Linked DNA regions of Homo sapiens: all the other regions are linked to region 3. The links come from fine-mapping of genetic effects on gene expression. A gene starts in region 3. Each other region holds a variant in brackets. All regions are shown on one strand. Distances are from middle to middle.

Region 1 (7,529 bases), 21 kb after region 3:
ATTTTCTGGAGGAATTTTTGCCTATGAGAGGTATTGGTCTGTAATTTTCTTCTAATATGATACCTTTGTCTGGTTTGAGTATCAGAGTAATGTTGGCCTCATAGAATTTGTTGGGAAGTATTCTTTCCTCTTCTATTTTTGGAAAAGTTTGTGGAAAATCAATATTAATTATTCTTTAAATGTTCACCAGTTAAGCCCTCTGGGACTGAGCTCCTTGTGAGTAGTTTTGACTAAAATTTTTTTTACTAATTTAATATCTTTATTTGTTATAGGTCTATTCAGATGTTCTATTTCTTCTAAGTCAGTTTTGGTAGTTTTTGTCCTTCTAGAAATTTTTTCATTTCATCTAACTTTTTGAACTTAATTGTCATACAGTTGTTCATCATATTCCCTTATGATCCTTTTAATTTCTGTCAGTAGGTCTGTGAAGTCTTTTATTCCTGATTTTAATAATTTGAGACTTCTCTTTCTTTTCAACTTGGTCAATCGAATTAAAGTTTTGTCAATTTTGTTGATCTTTTCAAGTAACCTAACTTTTGGTTCTGTTTATTTTTCTCTATGAATTTTATTCCCTATTTTATAAATTTCTACTCTAATCTTTATTATTTCCTTTATTTAGCTTGCTTGGTTTTAGTTTACTCTTCTTTTTCTAGTATCTTAAGGTGGAAGGACATGTTATTGATTTGAGGTCTTTCTTTATAATATACATATTTACAACTATAAATTTTCCTCTAAGTACTGCTTTGTCTGCATCCCATAAATTATGACATGTTTTTGTCTTCATTTTCGTTCATTTCAAAGTATTTTTGATTCATCTTTAGGATTTCTTTATTTGGTCCATTGGCTATTTAGGAGTATATTCTTAAGTTTCCACATATTTGTGAATTTTCCAAATGTTCTTCTCTATTGATTTCTAATTTTACTCTCTTATGTCCACAGAACACACTTTGTGTCATTTCCATCCTTTTAAAGTTATTGAGACTTGTTTTATGACCTAACATACGATCTATCTTGGAGAATGCTCCATGTGCATTTGAGAAGAATGTGTATTCTTCTGCTGGTGGGTAGAGTGTTCTATAGATACCTATTAGGTCTAGTTTGTTTATAATGTTGTTCAAGTCTTCTGTCTCTTTATTGATCTTCTGCCTAGTTGTTCAAACTGGGATATTAAAGTCATCAACTATAATTGTTGAATTGTCTATTTGTCTCTTCAATTTGTTTCATTTATTTTGGGGCTTTGTTATTAGATGCATATATGTTTATAATCGTTATATTTTCCTGATGAATTTACGCTTTCATCATTATAAATGTCTCTCACTATCTCTAATAATTTTTTGTTTTAAAATCTATTTGTGTTAGCCAGGAGCAGTGGCTTACACTTATAATCCTAGCAACTCAGGAGGCTGAAGCAAAAAGATCTCTTGAGGCCAGGCATTCAAGACCATCCAGGGCAACACAGCAAGGCCCCATTTCTTTAAAAATGAAAAAATTAACCAGGCATGGTGTCAAATACCTATAGTCCCAGCTACGGGAGACTGAAGTGGAGGAATGCTTGAGCCCAGGAGTTAGAGGCTGCAGTAAGCTATGATCATGCCACTGTACTCCAGCCTGGATGACAGAGGTAAACCTTATCTCTGAAAAATATATATATTTGTCTGATATTAATATAGCCACTCTGGCTTTCTCATGGTTGCTATTTGCATGATATATTTTTTACATCATTTTCCCTTCAACCTTTTATCTTTGAATCTAAAGTGTGTCTCTTGAAAACAACATGTAGTTGGATCTTTTTTATCCAGTTCACAATTGCTTTTTAAATATCAGTGTATTTGTCAACATTATGAAAAAGACCTATATGTATTTATATTGTTTAAAAATAGTTTTGACCTCACAGACCCCTTGAAAGGTGTCTGTAGTCCATTCTTGGAGAACCACTGCAATAATAAGCATTTATTTAGCTTATGCATGTGTGAATTAGCTGAGGGTGGACTGCTCTAAGCTGAGCCTGGCTGGATCCTTTTCCTTGGACCAGCAGGCTAGTGTGTAGACATGTCCTTCTTCTGGTGACAGCAGAAGCTTCAGAGGTTAAGGAAAAACAAATATTTTAAGGATATGCCTTGTTACATTGGTCAAAGTGAGCCACAAATTCTTGCACAAGTCACATGATCAAACACAAAATTGAGGGGTAGGGATATACATTCCATCCTTTTCGTGACAGCTGAAAAATGCTTGCAAAGGATGAGAAGACAGGCAATAGTGAAAAAAAAAATTAGGATGATTTGCAATCTACACACAGGTCAAGAGTGTAAGCAGAGTAACCAGCTAAGAGCTACCACAGCTAGAGAGAGAATGACGCTTTGGACTAATGGTGAAGAGGAAGGGAATTGGGTGTGACAACTGGGGAAGAAGAACCCCAAGGTGAGACCACAGGGTGACTCTCCACCAGCACTTGCCTGGCAGGGATACTGCCAAATGCAAGGATGTCCTGGCACCTTCCTGGGTGGATAGAAACTAGTCCTGGTGCCCCTCAACCTTGCTTCCTTGATACTTTCTCCACATTTTCCCAGGACTCTCAGACAATCCAGCTGTGCCTTGCCCCTTAGGAGTTTACCCCTTAGGGATTCTTATGGCTGAATGGGAAATGCTCCATAGTGATGGGGAAAAGCACATTGAAAAATGGCATAGAGAGTACGGTATGGCTTTTTTTTTTTTTTTTTCAAAAACAAAAAATCAGCTGGGCATGGTGGCTCACACCGGTAATCCCAACACTATGGAAGGCCAAAGCAGGTGGATCACCTGAGTCAGGAGTTCAAGACCAGCCTGGCCAACATGGTGAAACTCCATCTCTACTAAAAATACAAAAGTTAGCCAGGCGTGGTGGCGTGCGCCTCTAGTCCTGGCTTCTCGGGAGGCTGAGGCAGGAGAATCGCTTGAACCTGGGAGGCAGAGGTTGCAGTGAGCCGAGATTGTGCCATTGCACTCCAGCCTGGGCGACAGAGCAAGACTCCATCTCTAAAAATTTAATTTAATTTAATTTAAAAAAAAACAAAAAATGTTTTCGAATGGTATTTACTTATATGATCATAGAGAAGATATCACATTGTTAACAGTGGTGAGTTACCTCCAACAGCTAGACTGGTGTTAG[G/A]TGAGGGAACTACAGCATTTTGCTTTATACATTTCAGCACTGTCTGGACTGGTAAACATGTAGGCAATATGTTAGTTGAATGAATGAAGGAATGGAAGGGAGGAAGGAAGGAAGAAAGAAAGAGTCTGTCTTCCATTCAGCAAAGCATGAGGGCCAGGCACTAACAAAGGTTGAGATCTATACCCAAAGCTCCAGAACTGGCTCCTCAGGCCCTATTCTCATCACTGGGCCTCCCTCACTCTGCCCCTTGGCTTCCTTCCCATGAAGGCAGTGGGGCTTTGAGTAGATGGAACCACAGCTCTGAGACTTACTGGCTGTGAGACCAAGTCTCCCAGCTTCTCTGAGCCTCTGCACTGTATCATTTTGAGAAATTGATGAAATAATAAATTCTAGGTGCTCAGCATGGTGCCGGGCAAGTGGTAAGAACTCTATAAATAAATGTTCACTTTACTTTGCTCCTCATTCTGTTTGAGGCATGGGTTGGGCCCTTGCCCAGCTGCCAACCTCCTGATTTTCTCTGAACATTGCCCCTTTTCTTCTGCCTTCATCAGCCTTGCCCTTAGGGGAATGACAACTCAGGAACAACATCCCTCCTTCTTCACCTTCCACCTTCCACAGTGACCAAGGCAGCCTCTCTCAGAAATGGTCTGATCAAGGCATTCGTGTAGAGATGCTATAAATTTAACATCTACATATAATTTCAAGTGAGCAAGACCTACAGATGCAGAAACTGCTTACCCAACAGAAAGGAGCATTGAGGTGAATTTGGAGAGAGACTGGGGAAAAGGTGGGATTTCCTAGTGTGCGAATCAGAACCTCTGTATAAGGCCATGCCATGGGAGAATGTCTAGGGAGGCTGGCCACAGAGCACTCCAAGAAAAATGCTGACCTGGGCAGGAGCAACTCTCACAACAGAATGCATCCTGTGCTTCCCCCAGAAAGAAGCCTCCTCCCTGATCCTGCTGGCCTTTCCCTCTCCATCTCCCCCAACCCCTGAGTAAGCCCAGGATCGGCAGAAGAGCCTCAGTTCCTTCTTCCCTAAGGGACCCTCTGTGATGGTATCTGCCATAAAGCAGCCACAGCAGCTTTGGACTGCAGTGTGGGTCAGACAATGCCCTGCAGTCTTGGCTCAGCCACTCAGCAGCTGCAGGGCCCTCAGCAAGCCACCCACCTCTCTTGGCTACATCTTCCTGTGTCAGGAAGGCCATCTTGCCATCACTGTTGGAAGGATGTGGGGAGACAATTGATGAGAAATTTTCCAGCTCAAGACCTGAGCTGGTTGAGGGAGTGTCAGAGTTGCATTTGGGGATAACAAGCCCTAGAACATGCCCCTAGCAAAGACAGCCTTCTCAGCGTCTCTATGACCCTGAGCTCCTGTTTCTGAGGCCTCATTTGGGGAGCCAGCCATCCCCTCCAGTTCTAGTGAGCATGCATGAACGCTAAGGCTAGAGGCAGAGAGACGGCCGAAGTCACGGTGTCCAACCCAGGAGGCGAAGGAAGGCACGATGCCTGGGATGCACTGGGCATCACTCTGCTTGCCTATAGGGAAGAGACAGGCTAATTCTGGCACCAAGGGACAGAGAAATTATCCCCAGACAGAGGCCAGATGGCAACGCTGCTTGAGGAAACCCGATGGACACAATGGACTCTGAATCACCGTGAGTGGTGACTCAAAGTCTTACAGACATTAGCTAATCATGAACATGACTGCAGGCCATCAGTGACTGGGATCCCCCACGCCAGGCTAACATCAACCCTGGACATCAGTCAGATCCTCAGGCAGGCATGGTCCCTTCCCTGTGTCACGGCAAGCTCCAGGCCACTCAGTGGGCAGCTGCAGCCATCCCTGAAGGCACAGAAAGCAGTCAGAGATTGAATTCGGATAAGCAGCCTTAGCTTTTAAAGACAGATGCAACACACTTAAAAAACAGGTGGCCCCGGCCGAGCGCGGTGGCTGACGCCTGTAATCCCAGCACTATGGGAGACTGAGGCGGGCAAATCATGAAGTCAGGAGATCGAGACCATCCTGGCTAACACGGTAAAATCCCGTCTCTACTACAAAAAAATTAGCCGGGCGTGGTGGCAGGCGCCCATAGTCCCAACTACTCCGGAGGCTGAGGCAGGAGAATGGCGTGAACCTGGGAGGTGGAGCTTGCAGTGAGCCGAGATCACGCCACTGCACTCCAGCCTGGGCGACAGAGCGAGACTCCATCTCAAATAAATAAATAAATAAAAATTAAAAATTAAAAAAAAAACAGGTGGCCCCCAAAGACATCCCTGGATGTCATAAAGGTACCAATTGCAAATACCTGGAAATGATACTTGAACAGAGGATAAGGATTCTGTCGTTATTTTCCCTTCCTGCTGAAACAAATACGTTTGTGCAACTGTTAAATAGCACCGTGGGTATACAAAGGTCGAACAGCCTTGCCTTGCTTGCTCAAAGTGTACTCCATGGGCCAGCTGCACTGGCATCACTTGGGTGCTTGTGAGCAATGCAGAGTCTCAGGCCCACCCTAGAGCTCCCAGAATTACAGAATCAGAATCTGTATTTTAATGAGGTTGTCAGGTAATCTACATTCTTACTGAAGTTTAAGCGCTGCCCTAATACACATAATCATTTGCCTATTAAGTTGTTTCCCAATAACACGTTTATTGCAGTTTGTTAGAGGTCTACATTATGTCAAGCTGTTGACCCCCAAAGATGCAGGTGCAAGACAGACCAAATCCTGCTCTCAAAGAGAGCAGGGGAGAGACAGATAACACATGCATTCTACAGATAAGATTGCTCCAGACTGTAGGAAGTGTTATGAAGAAAATAGACAGGGTGATGTTTCTGAGTGTTTAGGGTGATCAGAGAAAGCCTCTCGAAGAAATGGCCTCTGAGTGGGGTCTTGAAAAATAAAAAGAATCCAGACATGCCAAGAGCTGCAAGAAAGGCTGAGAGAAGGGGAGGTTCAAAGGCCCTGAGATAGGCACGCAGGCGGCAAGACCGAGGAACAGAAAGCAGCTGTATGACCACAGCATGGAGCAAAAGAGGAAAGCAGCAGGCAGGAACTATCAAAGGCCTACAAGGCATGGCATGGAATTAGGATTTTAACACAAGTGCATCAGGAAATCACTCATGAGGGATAACGAGCAAAGGGTCAGGATCTATTGTACACTTTTCTCTGTGGCCTGAAGCAGCAGCCATTTGGTTGTTCATGACTCCCTGGGTCAGGGATCCAAGCAGATCCCAGTGGGACGGTTCATCTCAGCTCCACCAGTTGTCAGCTGGGGAGGGTCGACAGGAGTGCAGGATCCACAATGGACTCACTCACAGGTCTGGGGTGTCAGTGTCAGCTTTTCATTGGGGGAATGCACTTCGGTGCCCCTGCTTGTGGCCTCTCATCATTCAGTGCTCTCACCCAAGCTGCCTTCCACAGCAGCCAGCTTCCAGGAGCCGGCTTATATTTTTAACAGATGTCTCTGGCTGCTGGGTGGGAAAACGATGGTAAAAAGGGCAAGGCTGGGAGCAGGACACCGGCGAGAGATGGTGGTGACTTGGATGGTGATGGGTGAAGGGGGCATGGCAGGAATGGACTGACTGCAGATGTCTTTGAAGTTGAACCAATACAACTTGCCAATCAATGGGATGTGGTGGAGGAACACATGGGAGGAATCAGAGATTATTTCCAAGACTCTGGCCTGAGCAACCCTATGAATAGTGATTGCCCAATGTCACTCACTGAGATGAGGAAGCACAGGTTTGACTGGCGGCAGGAAGGCAGAAAAACAGAGGGTCATATTTTTGACATGTGTATTTTCAGAGGCCTATTAAACATCTGAGCGGAGATTTCATAGAGTTCACCAGGTGAATGGTCTGAAACTCCAGGGAAGGTGTGCACTCAAGATGTTATGAGCAGAAAGAAAACACTTACATCCATGAAGAGAAGGTTGGTAGAGAGGGAGGTTCAGGCCAGGGCCCTGGCACCTCATCATTTAGGGGGCAGGTAGCAGAGAGGGAGCCGAGGAGAGTGCATAGACGCACGCAGCCAGGTGGGAAGAAAACCAGCAGAATGAGATAGTGTGAGAGCATGGGAGGAGAATGCTTTCCATGGGGACAGAGAGAGTGGTCGGTTGAGTCTCCTTTGTGGCTCTTTCTCAAGATGGAAGGTTCTAGAGCATGTTTGAATATTCTTAGGATGCTCCAGCAGAGTGGGGTGACTGCAGGAGAGAAGGCCTTGAGGAGGAAGGGAACAGGACCCAGAACTCAGGTGAGGGGTGGCCTCTGATAGGAGCAAGACTAGGCGGGCAGGCACAGAGCACAGGCACAGATGCAGGTGGATTGGATAGGGGAGGGGACAGTTTCTGTCTGGATCAGCTCTATTTTCTCAGTGAAGAA
Region 2 (7,529 bases), 96 kb after region 3:
CTGCCTTCCACCTCCCTCAGACGCCCACACAGTCCAGTGGTCCACCTCCCTCAGACGCCCACATGGGCCAGGGTCCTCCTCTATCAGAGGAAGGGCCCCTTCCTTGTTCTTTCCCTTCCTGCCCCAGATCAGAACAAGAAAAGCAGAGACTCCCCAGGCCAGGAGAGCAGGGCCAAGATGTGAGGAGCAGTCATTCTCCTCTCGAGACCTCTGATTGTGCACAGGGGCCAGTGGAGGCTCCCAAGAGGCTGTCCACGGGGACCATGTTAGGTCTCTTCAGGCTTCAAGGGCAAGTCTAAGGGGGGAAGACCCCCATGATGGTGTGCCCTTTTGTTCTGAAGCAGCTGCCTCCCTCTGCTTTGGTGCCAGGCACTGAAAACATTTTTCTTGATTTAGGGGCCCCACTTATACTTAACATAGACAAGAGATACCAGGATGTGCTCACATCATAGTGAGCATACACAGCAAGAACACGTAGTGTGTCCATCAGTGTCCTCATCACATTGCTCTCCTTGTGTTTGTTGCAAGGCTGCTGGTCTCCCTTCCAGACTGAGCTCCTCATGGGCCAGGGCTGTGCTTGAGCTGTCCTTGAATTCCTAGTGTTAGAAAAGGGCACAGCCTGTGGGAGCCCCGGATGAATGTGCTGGACCAAATGGCAGAGCTAGAGTCCAAACCCTGCTCTCACTCTGTCCACACCCAGGGCTCTTTCTATTCTACTGTCAGTTCCCTGGCTGAGCAGAGCTACAGGCCCATGGGAGAGGACTGGGGAATGACTGCACCATGCCTGGCCTGAAATATTTAGAAGAATGGCCATATCTGGGGTTGCACCATAGTACCCCCAAACCCACCCCTGGGGCAGGAGAGGGTGTTGAAAGGAGAGTCCAGCAAAACACATATAGAACAGGCTTGCTGTTAGGATGTAGCATCTGTTCCCACATGGTTTTGGCCTCCCCTTCTGTGGGGGTTTGGTTGGTGATAACAGAGAAGCAATAAGGTGTGAAGTGACAGTGCCAGCCCATCTGAAGATAAAGCTGCTGGACAGGCAATTTGCACCTAGGAAAGGAAGGGCCCCTGTAACTGCCAGACTCCCCATCCGTCTGGCCAAGGCTGTCTCGGTGCTGCACCACCGCCCGAGGGTCCTCCTATGTATGACTCTCCCTTCCCCCTCTCTCTCCACAGGGGTGCAAAAGTGGTTGGAAGTCTCTCCCCACCTTTTCCTGCTCCCTCTCCTTTTTGTCCGACACAGATGTTCTCTCAATAAATCTCTGGCCAGTCTAATTCCATCTTGGCATCTACCTCTGGAAGAACTGGGACTGATATAGAGGGTGGCAGAGGGGCTGGGGGTGATGGCTGGGGGTATTCACGAAGGAGGGCAGGGGGAGGCGGCTCTGCCCAAAAAGTCCTGACTTTCCCATTCCTGGCTGTGACACTTGGCTTCCTCATCAGTTTGAAATGGTTAGAAAGTGGGACATCTGGGCTGGATTTTAAAACACACTACATTATCTAAGGTGTAAAAGAAGTGAGTTTGGCTGGCAGATGGGAGAAAACGCTAACGATAAGAAGTGCTAGCTGGTAATTAGTTCCCTTAAGGAACTCACAGGAGCTCCCTGAACCACAGAGTGGATGGCACATACACGGAGGCAATTCCACGCCATGTTGCCCAATCAATTCTAAAAGCCCCGGCCCACAACCAAGCAGCAATTAGGAGATTGGAGAAGTGAAACTGGAAACTGAATCCAAATGACTGCCATGTCACTCCAACTCAAGTTCATCCTTTCCGAAAAGAGGGGCATAAAAGGGACCTCAGGGATGAAACCCTTGCCTTGGGAGGGTGAGCAGCTGACAGGAGGGTCAGGAGGGGCTACCACCAGCGAGGCCAGAGTCAGGACCTGCAGCGTGTGACCGGAGGGTGGAGGTAAGAATGTGGGCACACCTATTCCTCCCGCAGGGGGCACTTTCCAATATTAGCTGTTCTGTGACAGGGGACAGGCTTGAAAGACAGAGCCCAGGGACAGAACCACTCATTTGTGACCATCAAATCCCATGGCTTTAACTAGAATGAGATACTACATACGTAATGTCTACAGAAAACTGGAAACTTAAAACCGAAACCTCAGCGGAGAGTTAGCCAGTGAGAACGAGGTATTCCTACCCAGCTCCCAGTTTGCCTTAGCTACAGGGAAACCTAAAACTTCAGTCACAGTTTAAGTGCCTAGTTACTGATTTTCCTTTGTCTCTTTTCTTTTGTTTTGGCCTTAATTTTCAATGTCCACATTTTAGACTTTATTTTGTCAGAGTAGAAATGTTTATTTTTTTAATTTATTTTTATTTTTCGAGACACAGTCTGGCTGTCACCCAGGCTGGAGTGCAGTGGAGCAATCTTGGCTCACTGCAACCTCTGCCTCCCGGGTTCAAGCAGTTCTCCTGCCTCAGCCTCCCCAGTAGCTGAGATTACAGGCTCACACCACCACGACTGGCTAATTTTTGCATTTTTAGTACAGACGGGGTTTCACCATGTTAGCCAGGCTGGTCTTGAATTCCTGGCCTCAAGTGATCTGCCCACCTCAGCCTCCCAAAGTGCTGAGATTACAGACATGAGCCACCGCACCCAGCCTGAAATATTTAGAAGAATGGCCATGTCTGGGGTTGCACCACAGTACCCCAAAACCCACACCTGGGGCAGGAGGGGGTGTTGAAAGGAGAGTCCAGCAAAACACATAAACAATTTTTTTGGTAGCTGTGATTTTATGGTCTGTATGTGTAATGATCATACAGAAATGCCTGTGTGTGTATATGTGTGTGTACATGTGTATGTGTGTGCGTGCACGTGTGTGTGTGTGTGTGCGCATGTGTGTGTGTGCGTGTGTGCATGTGTGTGCATGTGTGTGTGTGTGTGTGTGTGTGTGTAGTTCTGTTTCATTTTTTCTGTGTTGATTAATGGGAGCTCACACAGCACAGCCCACTTGTGCCACCCTCTTACTGGTAGCACATGCCCTCAGGACTGGTGAGGGCAGGGTCCAGTGAAGTTCTGTGCTAACCCAAATATTCAAAGAAGTGGGTGCTAAAACGGAGCACATACATTCATAAGGCAAACCTAGAAGCAACAGAGGACCAAGGTTAAGAAAAACCCAACATGACCCTAGAAATTCTGTCAAAAAGGCAGGTCCAGTTTCCTAAATGATCACAGCCAAGGGCGAGCCACTAAGAGGTGCAATCCAAGTGCAGATGATGCTCCCATATCCCTGTGTCTGGGCAGGGAAATAACAGACCAAATGCATAACTAAGGTGGGCAGAATGATGACCCCCAAAGGGGGGCCACACCCTAATTCCCAGAACCTATGATTACATTAGGTTGCACGGCAAAGAAGAATTAAGGCTGCAGATGGAATAGGAAGGTTATCCTAGATTATCTGGGTGGCCCCATTTTCATCACAAGATCCTTAAAGTGGAAGAGAGAGGCAGAAGAGGAGGTCAGAGAGAGGTGATATGAGGACTCAGCCAGTTGTTGCTGGCTGTGCAGATGAAGGAAGAGCTACAGCTTAGGGATATGAGCAGCCCCTAGCAGCTAGAAAAAGCAAGGAAATGAGATTCTCCCCTAGAGCCTCCAGAGGGAATGCAGCCCTGCCCACACCTCGATTTTAGCACAGTGAGACTCATGTTGGACTCATAACTCATGGAGCTCTACGTAATAAATAGGTGTTGCTTTAAGCCGCTAAGCTTGCGGTAATTTGTTAGAGCAGTTACAGAAAACGAAGACAATAATGTCCCTGTACCTGATTACCTTCTGCCAAAATGGCACTGCTCAGGGTTCTGAGCACATTCAACGCAGGCTAGGCTAAGCTAAAACATTTGAGGGGTTAGGTGTATTAGACGCAGTTTCAACTTACCATGGGTTTATTGGGTCATAGCCCCATCATAAGTCAAGGAGCATGTGTAATAAGAACACGAAGAAATATATTTGATAAAGTATAATAAAGGAGGTGTACACTAAAGCAAAGCTCCATTTGGATGTTAATCCAAGCACAGAATATGAATTGGTGGTGATCTGATGA[T/G]AGGTGGTCTGATCTCCCCCAGCGTGGCCTTCCCCTGAACTTCATCTCTCCACGGTGGCCATGAGGCCTCTGCCTAAACACTGCTACCACTGGGATGTGGCCACGTCACCAGGAGTTCACGTGGTTTTGATTACTAGAAAGATTTTCCATACTAAGCTGAATCCGTACCCCTATAGCTTCCATCCACTGGCTCTAGTTATAGTTCTTGAAGTGCTTAGAATATTTTCTTCACTGTGAGGCTATGAAGACAAGTGCCACGTATATATCCTTTCTAAAGTTCCCTCTCCCCTCCCAAGCCTAACACATATGGGTCTTTCATTTATTCCCCACATGCTGGACAGGATCCTTTTCAACTACATTCCCCCCTAAAATGTGGCACTCACAACCAAATACACAATTCCACATAAATAGAGTGGTAGGGGCAAAGTTCAATAGTTCCAATACTAGATGTAAGAGCTGCACCACTCCCACCCTCTCAAATGGTAGACTAGAGGGTCTCCACGGACTCTTCTAGCCCTGATGTTCCAAGATTCTAAGAGGAAGGTACCTAAGAATAGACTCGTTCATGCAACAAATATTTACTGCTTTTGTACTAATTTTATTATACCCTCCCTTGGCATTTATAGACAACCCAGATCAAGGGTTTTACAGTCCAGCTTGGGTCTGCAGGGCATCCTCTGCAGTTGCCAGTCCTCTAGAGGCTCAGGAAGTGGGCGTTCCAGAAGCAACGACTGCCTTCAGTGACAGCATGAGCTGCCCAAAGGCTTCCAAGCACCTTAAAACCTATTCTCTTCTGAAGAGCCTTCCAAGTTGTGGATCTTGGAACTCTCTGTCCCTTGTTTTTATTCTGCAGATACATATTCAGACCTGTTTTTGTTATCTCAGATCCTAAGCCTCTGATTCAAAAGGACAGAGCCTATGGAATAATCATTCAAAAAGGGAAAGTTGAAAGCAGTATCTAAATCCAAGGCATTAAAGTGGCCACGCTATCAAAATCTTTGGCCCACTAAGTTCACTTTTAAGAATTTGTCTTACAGATTCACACACACAGAAAGACACACACACACACACACACACACACACACACAATGTGCATACATATATATACATATGTATATTTTAGCTATATTTATAATAGAAAAAGATTGGAAATCTAAAAATATCTCAGTAGGAAACTGGTTCAAACAATGTGCAACCATACAGAACAATCCTATTCAGCCTTAAAAACAAAAAGGAAACAATAATATATAAAAAGATATAATGTTAAAAGAGAAAAGCAAAGTACAGAACAATGTATCTAGTATGCTACCATTTCTGTAAAAAAAAAAAAAAAAAGAGGACTGCATATTTTCTTGCATGTGCATAAGACATCTCTAGAAAGCTTCACTAAGAATTGGTAGAAACTGGTTGCCTCCAAGAACTCAATGGCTGGAAAGTTGTGGCGGCAGGAAGACTTTTTGCTGTATATTCTTTTGTGCCTTATGAATAATAAACCATGATAATATACTGCTTAAAAATAAAATATTTTATAATGTAAATAAACAAAGTAAAGGTATTATGATGATATTATTGCAGTTGCTGTAAAACAGCCAAAATGCAATTGAACACCTAATAAAAATAATCTGGTGATAACTATAATACGCATCTGGACTTTTCTCCAGATAGGCCCATTTTACAGATTTAAAAACATAAATGGAAAGGTGAGAGGACTCACTCAAGATCCCACGGTGAGCCATTAACAGTTTTAACTGTACTTTGGTAATCAGCCCTTCACAAATCCAGATGGAATTCAGTTTGACTCTGACTTTTGTGTTTCAATTGTGTGGCCTTGGGAGAACCCCTTTTCCTCCCTGAACTAAGTGTCCTCATCTATATAATAATAACATTGGACTAGGTAAGCTTTAAGGTTGATTTTATGACATCTTGAACTTTAGGTCAAGAAAGGTAAAACAATATTTCAGGCTTCTTTTTTTTTTCGTGATAACAATTTGCCCCAATCCTTCACACAACCCCTCATCTGTTCCCTGATGAGAATGAATCAACATGCTCACAAAAGCAGAGCTTTGTATCCGTAACAAAAACCTCTGCTCTTCTTGTTGTAAAAACTCCCGAGAAAAGGGATGTGAGTGCTGAGCATTTCAATAAGACACAGAGATGCAGGATAATCTGTTCAACAGAAAGGAAAGCTATTAATAAAACCCTTGAAGGTACACAGGAAGATGGAGTGATAGCTTTTAATTACTGAGTCTCTTAGTCATCTTCAAATGAAGATTTAAAGATGTTGTGCATCTGACACAGAGGTTCAAAGCAAAGGTCCAAAGCAAAATTAAGTTTAGGCCCTAAGAAATAAGACAAAAGATAAGTATTAAATGAAAACAGAAAATTATTCCCATAGTTTAGGTCCTTATTGATGGTCCCTGTAACAATTTGTTAGTTGGGAGAGCATGTCCACACTAGAAAAGTAACAAATTTCATCCAGACAAAGCATTTAGTGTTGTGTCCAATAAGCCTAAAATAAAGATTATTGTACACTTCAGTGAAGACACATGCATACATTGAGTCATAGGAATTGGAGAAAAAAGTGAGTAGTTCACATAAATAAAACAGTTGGTGTTAGTTTCATCCGGTTGAGCCAAGCATTTCAGGGACAGCTGAGAAGAGCAGAAACTGAAGAAAGGAAGAGATTGCTTCAATGGGTCCCTGACTCACTTGATCAGATCTCTTTGCTCAGAGATGATTCATTCCACACTGATTTGCTGCTCACCTAATACGCTCAGATGTTGTTCAGAGCACTGGAATGCAGAGGTGAACACCACCCAAGCAAGGTCCCTGATCTCACAGACATCACATTCCAGGGAGAGAAGACATTCAGTCAACCATTAGTCTTTTGGTTTTTTCTTTTCACAAATAGTTTTTGAATGCCTACTGTGTACCAGACACTATTCTAGGCCTGGCAGACAGTAGCAAACATGGCAGAGTCCCTCCTGCCACAGGGCTTACATTCCAGTAGGGAAAGAAAAGCAACAAACAAGCAGGCAAATAAATAACTCTGGACAGTGCATATTATGAAGAAAAGAAAACAGAGTCTGGAACAGATACTGATGTGGAGGAGCGAGGAGGTCTTTTAGAAAGAGAGGTCCAGGAAGGCTTTAATGAGAAGGTGACATTTGTGCAGCTCTCAAATGATGAGAAGCAGCCAGCCGTGGGAGGATCCCAGAGAAGACGATTCCACACCGAGGAAGCATGAGAGTGAAGCCCTGAAACAGGAGCAAGCCTAGCATGTTTAGCAACCGTAAGAAGGGCTGTGTGGCTGTAGCCCAGAAAACAGCAAAAGAGTGGAAGGGCACAGGCCAGCGAGGTGGATGAAGCCCGGGCCATCCAGGACATTTACATCATAGTAAGAAATTTGGTTGAGTTGAAATACATTGGGTGGTCATTGGAGGACTTGAAGGAGGAGAATAATATTTGATCTACATT
Region 3 (7,257 bases):
GGCGCCTCGGCCGCCGCCGCTGCAGCGGTCTTGAGCCGCAAGTTCTGCCAGATCTTGAAGCTGATAAGGCCGTAGCAGGCAGCGAGCACGATGACCGGCACGATGTAGACAGCTAGCGTGATCCATGTGATGTAGGCCTTGGGTCCCCAGGGCTGGATGAAGACGGCCCAGCAGTCGAAGACGCCGTCAGCCACCTCGCGCAGAGAGAAGATGTGCACCTGCGGCGCGCTGGCCACCAGGCAGCCGAGCCACGTGGCGAGCACTGCCAGGCGGTCGGTGCGGCGGCGCAGCGAGCGCAGCGGCTGGCAGATGGCCAGGCAGCGGTCCAGGGACATGAGCAGCAGCAGGTAGGTGGAGGCGAACATGCCCACCACCTGCAAGTACTTGACCAGGCGGCACAGCAGGTCGGGCCCGTAGAAGCGGAAGGTGATGTCCCACAGCAACTGCGGCAGCACCTGAAACACTGCCACCACCAGGTCGGCGATGCTTAGGTGCTTCATGAAGAAGAAGAGGCGCGAGTGCTTCTGGCGTGTGGTGCGCAGCGCCAGCAGCACACACGCGTTCCCGCTCAGCGCCAGGAGCAGGATGAGACACAGCACCGCCACCTCCACGCGCGCCAGGGCCTCGTTGCGCCGCGGGGGTCCGGCGGTGCGGTTGCCCTCGGCCCCCGGCGGCGCGGCGCTGGCGTTGGCTGCCTCGGCGCTCCAGTTGGCTGCGAGCGCGCCCTCCATGACCCTGGCGGCAGCGGTGCGCCCCGGCCTTCGAGCCCTTTACGGCTTGGCGCGGCTGGGCCGGATCCGGCGTGTCGGAGGGTGTAGGGGCGCCCGGGGCTCCACTCCTGGAGACTCCACGGACGGATCTGCTGGGTCCACCCTGAAACAAACCGGGAGGGCCGTGAGGAGACCGCCGCGTTTCTCTTCCGACGCGGGTAGGGCGTGCTTGTCCCATTCCCAGGAACCCAACTCATCTGAAACAACAGGGCACAACCGCCGGCCTCGGGTTGCTCAGCCGCCACCCCAGAAATCCCCGTTGGAGGTACCTCCTCTGAGCCACTGCAAATGAGCGGGAATCCTCTACCGGCCACAAGCCCAGAGCCCCCAGCGTGCCAGTTCCTCGGGATGTTCAGCGGCTTCCACTGGGGGAGAAGGGAGGGTCAAAATCAGCAACGTTCCTCCGGGAGTGGGAATCTAAAACCAAATCACCTCCCCGAGGGAATCTCCAAACTACCTACTCGCCCCAGGCTCCGACCCTCAGCATATCCACCTGCCGCGGGACCCCCAAACCAGCCCCTCTCCTAGTAAACATTAATTCAAGTACTTCCTCCGGAAATCCCCAAATAGCCACTTGCCTGGGAAACCCCAGCTCTGGTCCTTCCCCGTCTAACCCCCTTTTCTAAGACGGTCGGCCGTCACTCCCTGAACTTCCACAGCACCTGCTTCGGTGGAAACCCGGTTCTGCAGTCCCTGCTGGGGGAACCCCTGCCTCAAAGCCCAAGATGCCCAAGCGCTGTTCCCAGACCCTGGCATAGACACCTCCCGCGGGGCTCCTCCCCAGCCCGGCAGCCTCGAAAGTTCTGGAACCCCTGACTTGCGCTTTGGACCCAGATAATCAAGGACTCTGAGTCTCAATCCCGAGAAGTCACTTTACAATCTCTCGGAACACCCCGAGCTCCTCCAGGAACAAGGAGTGCGAGGCACCCCACCACCTCCACTCGGGTCCCGATGGCTCCACCGGCCCTAGCCATCCCGTCCACCCCTGCTTAGCACCCAGCTACCTGCACCGAGTCCGCAGGCGAACCTAAAGTTGACTCCCCCCGGGGAAGTTGCACGGCGACTGACGGCCCCAGTGACGCGTGCGCTCCCGGCCCGAGTTGGGATGGCCTGCCGGCTGCACCTAATGTGATGCTAAGCTGAGGTCTCTCACTGGAGCCTCGGTTGGAATCCCCTCGCCGCAGCCTGGCTGGTCGCTGGATGGGTACAGGAGGCGAGCGAGGAGCGCCTCCCAGGCTGCGCGCGCGGACAGCGTCTGGATGCGGCGCTGTGCGCTGGGGCTGAGGCTGCACTATCGCACGGGTCCGCTAGGGGGCGGGCGAGGCCAGCCGCGCAGACCCCTCCGGAGCGGAGCTGGTTCGCCCAGCGTTGGTCCCAGAGCCTTAACAAATGGGTTTATTTTGCAGTGGTTTAAAACTGCGAGAGGGAGGGAACTCGTCAATAACCCGCCCGTTTCTTCCTTTCTTGGTTTAGAAGCTCTTGACTCCGAGACACATAGGAGGCTTGAATAATAATGTTCTTCCCCGGGTAGATAGTGATGAAGTTACAAAAGCATTTAAACTGATTATTTCCCAAAAATGATGTTAATTTTCAGGCTTTTCTCTCCCCCCACACCTCCAGCTTGATGTAGCGGCTTTAGCAGTGAACTCAAATAAGTCTTTGCTTTGGAATACTTTTGTTCCTATTCCCGTTAATGAGGAATTAGAAATGGCCTCTATTCTAAGCAGTGCTGGGAGAGGCGTTATTTTTTCGGTAGTTTTAGAGGAAATTCTGAAGCACAACACTGTCTTCATTTAAAGTGATTCTGCTTGTCTGCGCCCAAGAGCCGTTTCTGCCTCCTTGTCGCGCTTCGGAATTAAAATTCTAAATGATGCCAAAGGAAGATAAAATGTTAAAGACAGCTTCTCAGCCTCCCTGCCCCTTCTCTATTCTAAAATCATTTTTTGAAGTAATTTACAGTGGCCAAGAATTAAGTCAGAAAAAAAGGCCAGGATTCAAAAATAAACAGGGCTCTTTAAAATGCATTAAATGTGTATTTCCTCCTGACATTTCACTTCTCCGTCTTTTTATTATGTGGAGAGACTTGAGTTAGCCAAGGACTGGGTTTCCTTAATCCACAATTACAGCCCCATGCCGAGATATCCCAGGGGCCAACCTTACAGCACCTGGATCCCAGGGTTCTAGCTGAGTAATCATTCCAGAATGGGGCTGGGAATCTTGACAGCATTGCCAAGGGGTGGCAGGCAGTATTAATCAATATTAGTCAATAGTACCTATCGGCCTCGAAAATTACAGATTAAAGTTACAGACGACTCAGGTGAGAATGAAGTGACCTTGGGCAAGCCCCTTCTCTTTGGGCCTCAGTCTCCTCATATGTAAAATGAGAGCACTGGTCAAGATAGCTAATGTCTGAGGTCCTGTCCCTCTGGTTTTCTGAAACTGTATAATCTGTGCAATCTGAGGGTTCAATCCTAGCAGGTAAAACACCCCTGCCTCACTCCACGGCTGGATGAAGGCAGATTTTTCCCTATGAGCCCCTGACCGGTGAATGTGAGAAGGAAAACACTGGCCTGTAGAACCAAGCCTGCCCTTCTTTCTCCTGGAAGACAGCTGCTTTCTAGGGAGCAAGTTTACTGAGCCACTTCACCAAGGACAGACTCTTCTACCCTTTGTAGGGAAGCCTGCCTACCTGTGTGGTCCTCGCGTAGCCCGTGAGACAGCCTAATTCTGGATTCACCTAACAGGGCTATTTAGTCTCATGCAAAAGGTAAATTCTCTAACTTAGTTTTAATCTAAACAACAACAATAACAACAACAGTAATAGTGTGATCCCCATTTCCTGTCTTTTGTTTTATTTCTCATTGTGTGCAGAAACCAGGCAGGAAATAGAGAGGTCCCCTTGAAAACTCCTAACAATGAATAAGACATGCTCCTTCACCTTTGAGCTTCGGCCAGGGAGAAAAACACATATTAGATTGGTGCAAAAGTAATTGTGGTTTTTGCTATTAAAAATAATGGCAAAAACTGCAATTACTTTTGCATCAACCTAATATTTGCAGTGTGACAACAATAAATGATGTTACAGAAGTGAGGACTGCTGGGGGCTGAGGTAATACTTGGGAGATCGTTTTACAAAGAGGTAGCTGGATTTCAGAGCTCCAGAATGAGTTCTCCAGGAAGCAAAGAAAAAAGGCATACTTCTCAGAGAGTGGTGCAGGGGAATCACTTTGGCGTTTTGGAGGAAGGACTAAAGATGAATTGCTTGGTGCCTAGCACATTGCCAGCACTTAATACATACAGTTGGCCCTCTATATCCCTGTATCTGTGAGTTCAGTGGATTCAAACAATCATGGATTGAAAATATTCAGGAAAAAAAATCCTCAAAGTTCCAAAAAGCAAAAATTGAATTTGTCATGTGCCACCTACAACACTGAATGCACACAAATGCAGTGACGAGTGACATTGCATTAGGTGTTACAAGTAATCTTGAGATGACTTAAAGTATGTGAGAGGATATGCACGTGTTATATGCAAATACTGCTTCATTTTATATCAGGGATTTGTGTACCTTGAAGGCTCCCGGAACCAATCCCCCATGGATACCAAGAGATAACTGTACTTATTGATGCTAAAGGAACTTCAAGGCCATGTAAAGGAGAATGGGTTTTATTCTGTAACCCAACATTCCCCAAAATATGGGATGGAATACTTTCTGATAGTGTTAAATGTGAATTTAATATTGAGTGATACTGAATAACAGGGAGGAAATTCAGTTCTCAGTTCTGCTTACTTTTGACGTCAGCAAAGAGAAAGTCTGATATAACAAAAATCATGAAGGTGCTAGTGTAAAGATGACTGAGGTTAGAAGGCATTGGTGGGGAAGGTGGGGTGCCTGGAAGGACTGCAAGCAAAACAACGTACTCAAATCTGTGCTTGGTGAGAGAATGCTGGTAGCCACAGGGAAGATGGGAAAGGAGATACTGGCATTATGAAGGCCTTGGAGATCCAGGCAAGAGATGCTGTAGGCATGGACAAAAGATGTGACATTACAGGGTGTCTTTCGGTCTTCCAAAGAAACAGAACCATTGGGATGTATATATGTAGAGAAAGAGATTCATTTAAGGAATTGGTTCATGTGTTATGGAGGCTGGCAAGTCCAAAATCTTCAGAGTGAGCTGACAGGCTGGAGACCCAGGGAAGAGCTGATTTTGCAGGTCAAGTCCAAAGGTCCTCTGCTGCGGAATTCCTTCTTGCTCAGGGAGGTCAGTCTTTTGTTCCATATAGACCTTCAACTGATTGGATAAGCCCACCAACGTTATGGTGGGTGATCTACTTTGTTCCAGATGTTAATCTCATCCAAAAATACCCTCACAGAAACATCCCGAATAATATTTGACCAAATATCTGGGCACCATGGCCCAGCCAAGCTGACACACAAAATGAACCATCACAGACAGAGATTCAGCAATCCCTGATTTACAAATGTCTTCATCTGTCTGAGTATCCGGGCATCTTTTTTTTTTTTTTATTTTAAGTTCTGGAGTTCATGTGCAGTATGTGCAGGTTTGTTACATAGGTAAATGTGTGCCATGGTGGTTTGCTGCACCTATCAACCCATCACCTAGGTATTAAGCTTAGCACATATTAGCTATTTTTCCTGATGCTCTCCCTCCCTCTGCCCCCGTGACAGGCCCCAGTGTGTATTGTTCCCCTCCCTGTGTCTGTGTTCTCATCATTCAGCTCCCACTTATAAGTCAGAACATGTGGTGTTTGGTTTTCTGTTCCTGTATTAGTTTGCTGAGGTTAATGGCTTCCAGCTCCATCCATCCTGCAAAGGACATGATCTTGTTCCTTTTTATGGCTGCATAGTATTCCATGGCATATATATCTATATATATCTATATATATATATATCTATATATATCTATATATATATAATCTATATATATCTATATATATATAATCTATATATATCTATATATATATAATCTATATATATCTATATCTATATAATCTATATATATCTATATAATCTATATATATATAATCTATATATATCTATATCTATATAATCTATATATATCTATATATAGATTATATAGATATAGATATATATATATATATCTCACATTTTTTTCTTTATCCAGTCTATCATTGATGGGCATTTGGGTTGATTTCATGTCTTTGCTATAGTGAATAGTGCTGCAGTGAACATACATGTGCAGGTATCTTTACAATAGAATGATTTATATTCCTTTGGGTATATACCCAGTAATGAGATTGCTGGGTAAAATGGTCTTTCTGGTTCTAGGTCTTTGAGGAATTGCCACTCCATCTTCCACAATGGTTGAACTAATTTGCATTACCACCAATAGTGTAAAAACATTCCTATTTCTCCAGATCCTTTACAGCATCAGTTGTTTCTTGACTTCTTAATAATCACCATTCTGACTGGCATGAGATGGTATCTTATTGTGGTTTTTATTTGCATTTCTCTAATGATCAGTGATGTTGACCTTTCTTTCATACGTTTGTTGGCCACATAAATGTCTTCTTTTGAGAAGTGTCTGTTCACGTCCTTTGCCCACTTTTTAATGGGGTTGTTTTTTTCTTGTATCCAAGCATCTTAAAGGTGGGGCCAATATTGTCTATACCTGTACTTCGAAAGGCCTAGGTCACTATAGAATAGGCACCTTTCAGGTATTTGTTAAATACAGAAGGATAAAAGGAAGGGGGAAAGGAGGGAAGAAATAAACATCTCCATGGGCAGAACCAGGCCCTCTGGGGAAGGTATCCTGCCCAGAGAATGACCTGTCCTGTACCCACTTCTGCCTCTGGGAACTGGGTCTGAGTTTTAGCATCTTGGGAATTTTCCAGCCCTGGCACATTTATTTCAACATGGATCCAAGCCCAAGCGGCCTTTGCTCTATTGTCAGAGTGGAAATGAGCTATAAACACATCCAACCTACCCCCTCCCTAACATCACCGCCTCCCCAGCCTGCCCCCAAATAACTTCTCAGCCTCTGCTTGGGCTCCTAGCTCCAGGAGGGGGGTCAGTGACATGCTCTCAGGCATAAAGGCTGAGAACACATTGTAGCAATCAGCCTGCTGCTGGCACACTTGATCTTCTTACATTTATAGCTCTGTGCGGATGCAGGCACATCAGGGCACATGGGCTGACCTGGGAAGTTCCTGAGGCCGTGCCAGGATGCTGTGTCAGGAGGCCACTGCTTATAGGTAGAACTTGCACGGATTCCTTCTAGCCTGTGTGATTTTGGACTTCCCAGCCTTTGTTTTCATTCCTGTGTTCCATGCAGGGTGGAGAAAGAGAGAAAAATGTGCTTTCCTATTGGAGAGAGCTCTGAATCTGCAGCAGTAAGTGCTTGCTAGCATCTGGATTTTACCACGTTTTGTCAGCGTGGCTAAGGTACTGAACTTCTCTGAGACTTGGTTTCCCCAGGTGCTGATCACATGAGGCTGTGTGTAT
Region 4 (7,529 bases), 120 kb before region 3:
AACATCCCTGAAGGACCGTGGTGAGGAGAAGTACTCCCAGGGGGCAGAACCTTGAACAGTGCCTGGTCTGGTTATTTCTTTTTGTCTCAGAGAAGCCGGCTATTGCTCAGCTCCTGCTGGACGAAGGTCTCACCCCACCATCTACAGAGCCCTCACTCTCATTCATCCAGTGAATGCTCCCTGCACATCCACCAGGAACCAGGCCCTGCCTCGGGCCCTCACAACCCAACCGAACCCAGAGCCACCCAGAACCCCCACAGGAGCCAAGACTGCCAACAAAGGAGTTCTGCCCCAAAGGGCCTGGCAGCCACAGATAACATTGTTGTTGGCTTATCTGCAGGCTGGGTGGATGGAGACCAGTGGTGCCCATGGCAGGAATCAAGTATGGAGTGGAGGAGAATGGGCTTGACACAAATAAGAAACTTGTCCAAGTAGGAGGTTCTCGAAACACCATGCCCAAGCACCCTCCTCTCTCTGGGAGCCAGGGAAACTGGCATATCCCTCCAGGCCCAAGTCGTGGACCTCTAACTGCACAGACAGAAAACAGGGACTGAGATCTTCTTGATGCCCCCCAAATACCACATAGGAAGGGAGATGCGTTCACAGATGCTTTCTCAGTTAAACCTTCACAACAACTCCGTAAGATAGATATTGTTCTCCTTATAGACGAGACAACAAGGGCTTAGAGAGGTTGAGTGACTTACCCAAGGTCACACAGCTCTGGTGCGGCAGAACAGGAATGAGAGCAAGTTGGCACCAAGGCCCTGATGTAGATGACAAACAATTCTGTGTGTTGTTATGTGTCGTTGTAAGAAGCTAGGGGAAGGAGCGTGGCATGGTTTTCACTGACCTGGCTACTTAGTGGCTTGGCCCGTGTAAGTCTGGCTACCCAATCAGCTGAACAGAAAGCAATGGAGGAAAGCTGAGAAACTACGATGCCCGCAGGCCAGAGGCCTTCAGGAAGGTCACCTTCCACCTTTCCTTTTCCTAGCCAATCCTGAACCTTTGTCTCCTCAGCGACAGCAAAGCCACACTTTAGCTGGTGCCCCCCCATCCTGAAGTCTTTCTAGAAGCTTCCAATGAGTGCTCACCAAAGCACTACTCCCTTCTGTGACTCTGGTCTGCTGCTGCCCTGGGCTTCCCTCTATCACCTCCTCCAGGCCACAGTGCCCCTTCCCTCATTCCCTTGATGTAGCTGAGGCCCCTCTTGGAAGGCTCCCAAAACACAGGTGGGGAAATGATTAAACACAACACAAAACTTAACCTTGACCCTGGATACATCGCAGCTCCAGGACTCTACCAATCCTGATGCTCCAGGAACCCAACTCATCAACTTTCTTAAGAGACTCTGGCCTGCCCCCACCGTCTAATGGTGGCCTGGTCACCTTCCCCTGGGTGCTTTAGTGAGTGCTGGGCTGCCCTCCCAGGTCCCCTCAGGATGAGAACCTCATCTCCAGCACCTGGCCAAGCCCTTCCCTGACTCACCCTGGGCCTTCATTCAGGGCAGCTCTGAAGGGCTGCCCTACTTCTGAGCCCCTACCCTCCAACAATGGGCAAGACCTTTGCCCTGACTGCAGCGCAACTCAACTCCTCCCTCTGTGAAATCCTGCTGCCTTTGCTTCCTCACAGGACTTGATCCCAAGAGCACCCCCAGCTAACTTCCCACACACAAAGGTCCTCCTCCTCAAAGTCTTCTTCCCAAGAACGCTGCCTGCAACAGGAACTTTCGCCACATCTTACCACATCTCCTGGCTCCTGCAGTTCATGAAGAGGGCAGGAATTGCATTTCTCCTCATTCCCAGAGCAGGTCCCAGGAGCGGGCAAGGTGGGATGGTGGCTCCTCTCCCCTGATCTCTAAATATCAGGGTGTCTGGACCCATTGTGTGCCCGTCCATCCGTGCTCACTCCCTTGGTGACCTCCTTCAGTGTTATGGTCGTCCACGCACTCATGATTCCCAATTTCTGCCTCTGCTTTGACCTCTCCTCTGAACTCCTGACTCCTCTATCTGGCTGGGACATCTCCCCTCAGTTGTCTAACAGACACCTCGAGCTCTCTCTGTGTGTTCAGCACTGAACTTCTGGTCTCCACCTGCTTTCACTCCCCCTTTTCCTCATACCCGCATTCAATGTCAGCAAGTCATATCTGCCTGGGTCCTCTCCCAGTCTGCTTCCTTGCTCCCACTCGTGCCTGAGCCCCCTGCCCCCCTCACCTGGATTGCTGCAGTCACTTCCTCATGGGCCTCCTATCTGTTGCCCTCGCCCTGACAAAGCCCATGCTCAATTCAGAACTCAGACTGATCCCTCTACACCTGTAAGTCAGGAGACAGCCCCTCCTCTGCTCAACACCCTTCCTGGCTGCAAAATCACTTGGACTAAAAGCCCAGTCCTTGCCGTGCTCTGCGAGCGACCCCCTGCACCCTCCCTACCAATATGGCCTCTGCCTGCTTCCCTTCAACCCTTTCCTCCAGCCCCACCAGCCTCCTCATCGTTCCTGGGTCACACCAAGCACATTCCCACCTCAGGGCCTTTGCACTTGCTGTACTGGAGACCTGGAATTCCCCTACAGATCTCTACACAAACTGTTCCCTCACCACCTTCAGGCCTTTGCTCAAATGTCACTCTCCCAGGGAGGCTGTCCCTGGCCCCTATTTAAAATTGAACACCCTGCCGCCACCACCAAATCTCCAGTCTCAGACCCTCTTTCCTGCTTTTGTTTTTCTTCATGGCACTTACTTCTATCCAACACATTAACTAACTTACTATGTGTTTTGTTCAACACCTGTCATAATCTGGATGTAGGCTACCAAGATAAAAATCCCAAAAAGCATATTTGTGTCTGTTTAGTTCCCTGCTGTATACTTAGCACTGTGAACAGAGCCTGGAAAATAATAGATGCTCTATAGACATGTGATGAATGAATGAATAAATAAATATATTCTTATGCAGGGACTTTATCTTCCCATTGTCCTGGACTTCTAAACAGTTTTCTCCAAAGATAAGCTTTGTTCCAACTGTGGGGAAACTGATAGAAGAAAAAAGAAGGCCACTAGTAATTTTTAAATACCAGTTTGTCCCTGTTTCTAGACATTTACTTCTTCAAAAACAGGGATCCAGTCTGAGTGCCACATTATAGGAACAGCAGGAAGGAGTTCAGTTTGACCCTGTGGCTCAAGCCTTAATGAAGGATGCTTCCCTGGAAGCTGGGACTACAGGACGCTCCATCCCCGTGGTTGGAAAACTGACCAGTGACAGCTCCTGCTCCATCCGTGGCCTTGACTCTGGAAGACATTTCCCAGGGAGCTCTTTTGTGGGTCAGTGCAGATGCCCAGCCTGGGGGCTTCAGATTAAACCAACTAAAACCAGTTTCTGTGGTTCCGGCTGCTGTCCTCACTGGGCTAGAAAATGGAAGAGGTTTTAAATCGTGGCTCCTGGCAGGCAAGGAGAACAGAGTGGCTCATTTCCAGCAAAAGGCAGAGATGCTAATCTCATAAGGCAGAAGGCTGCCTGCCAGCAATTGCACGCATTTTGCACGGTCCCTCCGTTTCTCCCTTCCTTCCTACTAATCTGATCCATTTATCTACAAAGCCAATTTGGAATTTTAAAAGGCCAGTCTGTTTGGTCACTGAAATTTTCAAACACAAATTCAATTTGCTTTGCAAGGCACCACCAGCCTTCCCAGGCCACAGGACAACACTAACTTCCCGTCCTTGTGTTTGCAGAGGGGTTTCTGTCATAAATGCTTCGGGATCCAGCCCATTGCATCTCTCGGCTATCTCAGCAAGCGGGGAGGCAAGTGAGGGAAGCCATCATTGCTGACGGTGAGCACTTGTTGGGACCTCAGAATTCTTTTTGTTCTACTTCTTCACTGTGCACATGGGGAAACTGAGGCCAAGAGAAAGGAAAGGACT[C/T]GTTCAGGCTCACATGGCAGTGAGTAGCAGACCATGGCCCAGGGCTTCCTCCATGACAAATACACTTTGAATGTTGCCCTGAGGTCCCCAGAGGTGAAGTGACTCCTGGGGCCACACAAAAATGGGGAGCAGGAGCAGAATGAGGAATCGTGTATTTTTTTCACATGTTATTAAAGAGCTTTGATTCCTTGCAGAGACCTTGATGGGTACCAGAGCGATAAGTAACATCAGACATAGCCCCACTGCAGAGTCTCCCATGAAGCCAAAAGTGGCAGAAATCATTTTTTCCTCCATCCCCTGATGTTAGGCCTCCCATCTAATGTCAACTGGAGAGACAGCCCTCAGCAAGGATGGATGTGTTCCCATGGCTCCACCCTAATTCTCTTTCTCCCCATGCCAGCTCCTCCCCTCCTCTGCCTCTTCACCATCATGCCCAGCCACACATACAGGAAACCCCTAATTATCCTCAACTTCTGTCTCTTCTCTTCCCACTACACACACCTCCTGCCAATCTCTCCTCCCTCCATCTCCGTGGCGACTGCCTCAGGCAGGCTTTCACTCACCCCTCCATCCGGGGGTCTCTGACTCCCCTCCGCACCTGCTTAGCAGTGCCAGCCAGTGTGAGCTGTTCTACAGCGTGTCCCGCATGCACAGTGATGACCAGGAAACGGTGGAGGTCAACCATCCATCCCCAGAAGGAAAATCAAACAATCACATGATCAGGATGACACACAGTGTCCAAAGTGCGACAGAACTCTCCCACCTTCCCTGTTGAGTCCTTGATCCAAGCACACAGAGCCCTCCTCGGGATCTCTCTGATCTTCCTCCCTCTGCACCTGTACCACAATCTCCCCCAGTCCCAGGGTCTCAGGTGCTCTGTGATCAGGAGTAGCCTTATAGACCAGTAACAGAAATGGCTTTACCATCTCCAGATTTTTCCCAATCAGACATCCACAAGTCAAGCAAACCTTTGTGTCACTAATAGCAGCTGCCTTCCATGGCATAACCTCAATGCTTATCATGTCTACCCAGACTGTCTTCTATTCCTGCTGCTCAGAGTCCCCCTCCCAAGAAGGGAGGATAAGAGAGAGGAAAGAAAGGGGAAGGGTGGAAAGCTTTTCCTGCCTACTTAGATCTGATTAAGTGTCTTGCTTCAAATCTTTTATGGCTCCTTATTACCCTAGGATAAAGTCCAAATCTTCAGCCAGCCTCCAAACAGCCTTTCCAGCCTTAGCCCTCACATGTTTTCCCCTGATATACCTATATCGAGTTTTATGTATACAGTTTCCCCCATTTGAAACATTCTCCTTCTACCATTTTCTCCCTGGCAAACTTCTACTCATGCTCCAAGGACCATCTCAGATGCCCCCTCCTCTAGGAAGCCTTTCATGATTTCCCTGACCAGAAACAACTGTTCTCTCCTCTGTGTCTTCAGGCCACTCTCCACAGGTCTATTATTTTGGAATATAAGCATGTGACTGACTCCCCCTTTCCCTCAGGCCATCTCCCTGGGAGTGGGGAGGAGACTGGGCTCCTCTTTGTCCTGGGGATCGGCTACCTAAATGCCCTGAAGCTCTGCCATTGTACCTGGCTTCCAGAGCCAGCTCCACATCCACTTGGAGAAAGAGAATCCACAACCAAAAACCGAAATGATAGCCACAAGAATGGACACCTTTTTGGATCTAAATTGAGAATCACATGGAGATGTATGTCATCCAACTCAAACCTGGTCATCCATCTGGCTGGACATGAAGAAGGTCAATGTTAATCACAGACCTCAGAGCAAGAGGCAGGAGCCGCAGATGTCATCTGCTCCAAACTCACTTTCATTGTCCTCTTTTATTTACCTTCACCATTACTTTTTATATTTATAAAAGAAATATCCTAATCCTTAAAAAATCAAAGATTCAAAAGATTAAAAACTAAAAACTAATGGTCACCCCACCTCCAATGTCCACATGTCAATTTACATGTAAATTTGCTTATAAGTGTGCATACACTTAGAATTTTTAAAAAGCGTAAATGAAATCATGCTGTAAATATTGCTCATCCTTTTTGTTAAGAAGAAACAAAAAATACAATATGGATATCTTTCTGTGTCAACAGCATACACAGTTTTACCTTGTTCATTTTATTGTTGTTGCTGTAGCAGATTTTACATTTAGCACACAATCCGGTTTAAATTCAGGCACTGGGCTGAATACGAATAACATAGAAATAACTAAAATATTGTTCACAAGACTTTTGTTTTTACTGATAATTTTTGAATGAGATTATTTTTCTTTGTATACATTTTACTGAATTATAACACAAATCCTTTAAAAAGCACAAATCTTAAAAACACAACTGGATGCATTTTGACAAAGTAAATGTACCCGTGTGACCAAAACTCAGATCGGGAACAGAACATGACCAGATTCTGAAGCCACTTTAGGCCACTTTCCGGTACTCACTCTCTACCTCCCGACCCTTCCACCCCACCCAGTGGGAACCGTTCCCCTGCCTGTAACAGCATGGCTCAGTTTTGCCTGTTGAACTTGATACATTTGGACTCAAACAGCAGGCACTTGTATTAGTCAGCTCAGGCTGCCATGACAACAGACTGGTGGCTTAAATGACAGAAATGTATTTTCTCACCATTTGGATGGCTGGAATTCCAAGATCAGGGTGCCAGCATGGTTGGGTTCTGGTGAGGGCTCTCATCCTAGCTTGTAGATGGCTGCCTTCTTGCTATGCCCTCATGTGGAGAGGAGAAAGAGAGAGAGCAAGCTTTCTTCTGTCTCTTAGAAAGGCACTAATTCCATCCTGGGGACCCCACCCTCACGACCTCATCTAAACCTAATTACGTCCTAAAGACTCCATCTCCAAATACTATCACATTAGGGGGTAGGGCTTCAACAGATGAATTTTCAACAAAAGAATCTGGCTTCTTTCACTCAACATCATGTTTGTAGAATCACCCACGTCATCTCAGTTTCCTTTATTTCTAACACTTCGTAGTTTCCCATTGTAGGAATGTATCATGATGTATTTAACCATTCTCCTCTCAATAGACACCCAAATTGTCTCCTACTTCCCTGCAGTTACACTGCTGTGGTTTAAAGATAGCCTTGTACTTATGTCTACACATGTGTGTGTGTTTCCATAGGGTAAATTAGTAGGAATAGAACCGTAGCACCTCACTTTACAGACAGATGCCGGAGCTCCAGGGAAAATATAAATATCTCAATGTCTCAGTGGGTGTCCTCCCCAAGGTCTCAGTGTGCGGCCACTCCAAGATCACAGTGTGTGGCCTTCTCCCCAAGGTCTCAGTGTGTGGCCTACCCAAAATCAAAGTATGTGGTCTTCTCCCGGAGATCTCAGTGTGTGGCTTCCCCAGGATCACAGTAGGTGGCCTCTTCCCCCAAATCTCAGTGTGTGGCCTCCCCCAGATCTCAGTGTGTGGCCTCTCCAAGATCACAGTGGGTGGCCTCTTCCCCCGGGTCTCAGTGTGTGGCCTCCCCAAGATCACAGTGGGTGGCCTCATCCCCCAGTCTCAGTGTGTGGCCTCCCCAAGATCACAGTGGGTGGCCTCATCCCCCAGTCTCAGTGTGTGGCCTCCCCAAGATCACAGTGGGTGGC

What was found. PIP is the estimated chance that this variant, and not a neighbour inherited with it, causes the effect.
Region 1: its variant is the best candidate, but not a certain one, in a credible set for the expression of OXTR in esophagus mucosa (GTEx, PIP 0.60).
Region 2: its variant is the best candidate, but not a certain one, in a credible set for the expression of OXTR in spinal cord (GTEx, PIP 0.57).
Region 4: its variant is the best candidate, but not a certain one, in a credible set for the expression of OXTR in whole blood (INTERVAL, PIP 0.88).

Annotation. Positions count from the first base shown.
Region 1 is chr3:8,788,556-8,796,084 of GRCh38, forward strand. No RefSeq gene overlaps it. Among named protein-coding and RNA genes, the nearest start is that of OXTR, 23 kb to the left of the region's middle. The variant G/A (reference allele first, on the strand shown) is at 3,146.
Region 2 is chr3:8,863,064-8,870,592 of GRCh38, forward strand. No RefSeq gene overlaps it. Among named protein-coding and RNA genes, the nearest start is that of RAD18, 97 kb to the right of the region's middle. RefSeq lists an enhancer at 6,287-7,486. The variant T/G (reference allele first, on the strand shown) is at 4,053.
Region 3 is chr3:8,767,457-8,774,713 of GRCh38, forward strand. OXTR (oxytocin receptor) reads right to left here and starts at 2,157. Exons shown (of 4, transcript NM_000916.4): 1 at 1,775-2,157; 2 at 1,040-1,135; 3 at 1-873. The coding sequence starts at 731. RefSeq lists enhancers at 1-280, 953-1,624, 2,272-2,321 and a silencer at 602-661.
Region 4 is chr3:8,647,519-8,655,047 of GRCh38, forward strand. It overlaps a transcript of SSUH2 not described here. Among named protein-coding and RNA genes, the nearest start is that of SSUH2, 6.5 kb to the left of the region's middle. The variant C/T (reference allele first, on the strand shown) is at 3,909.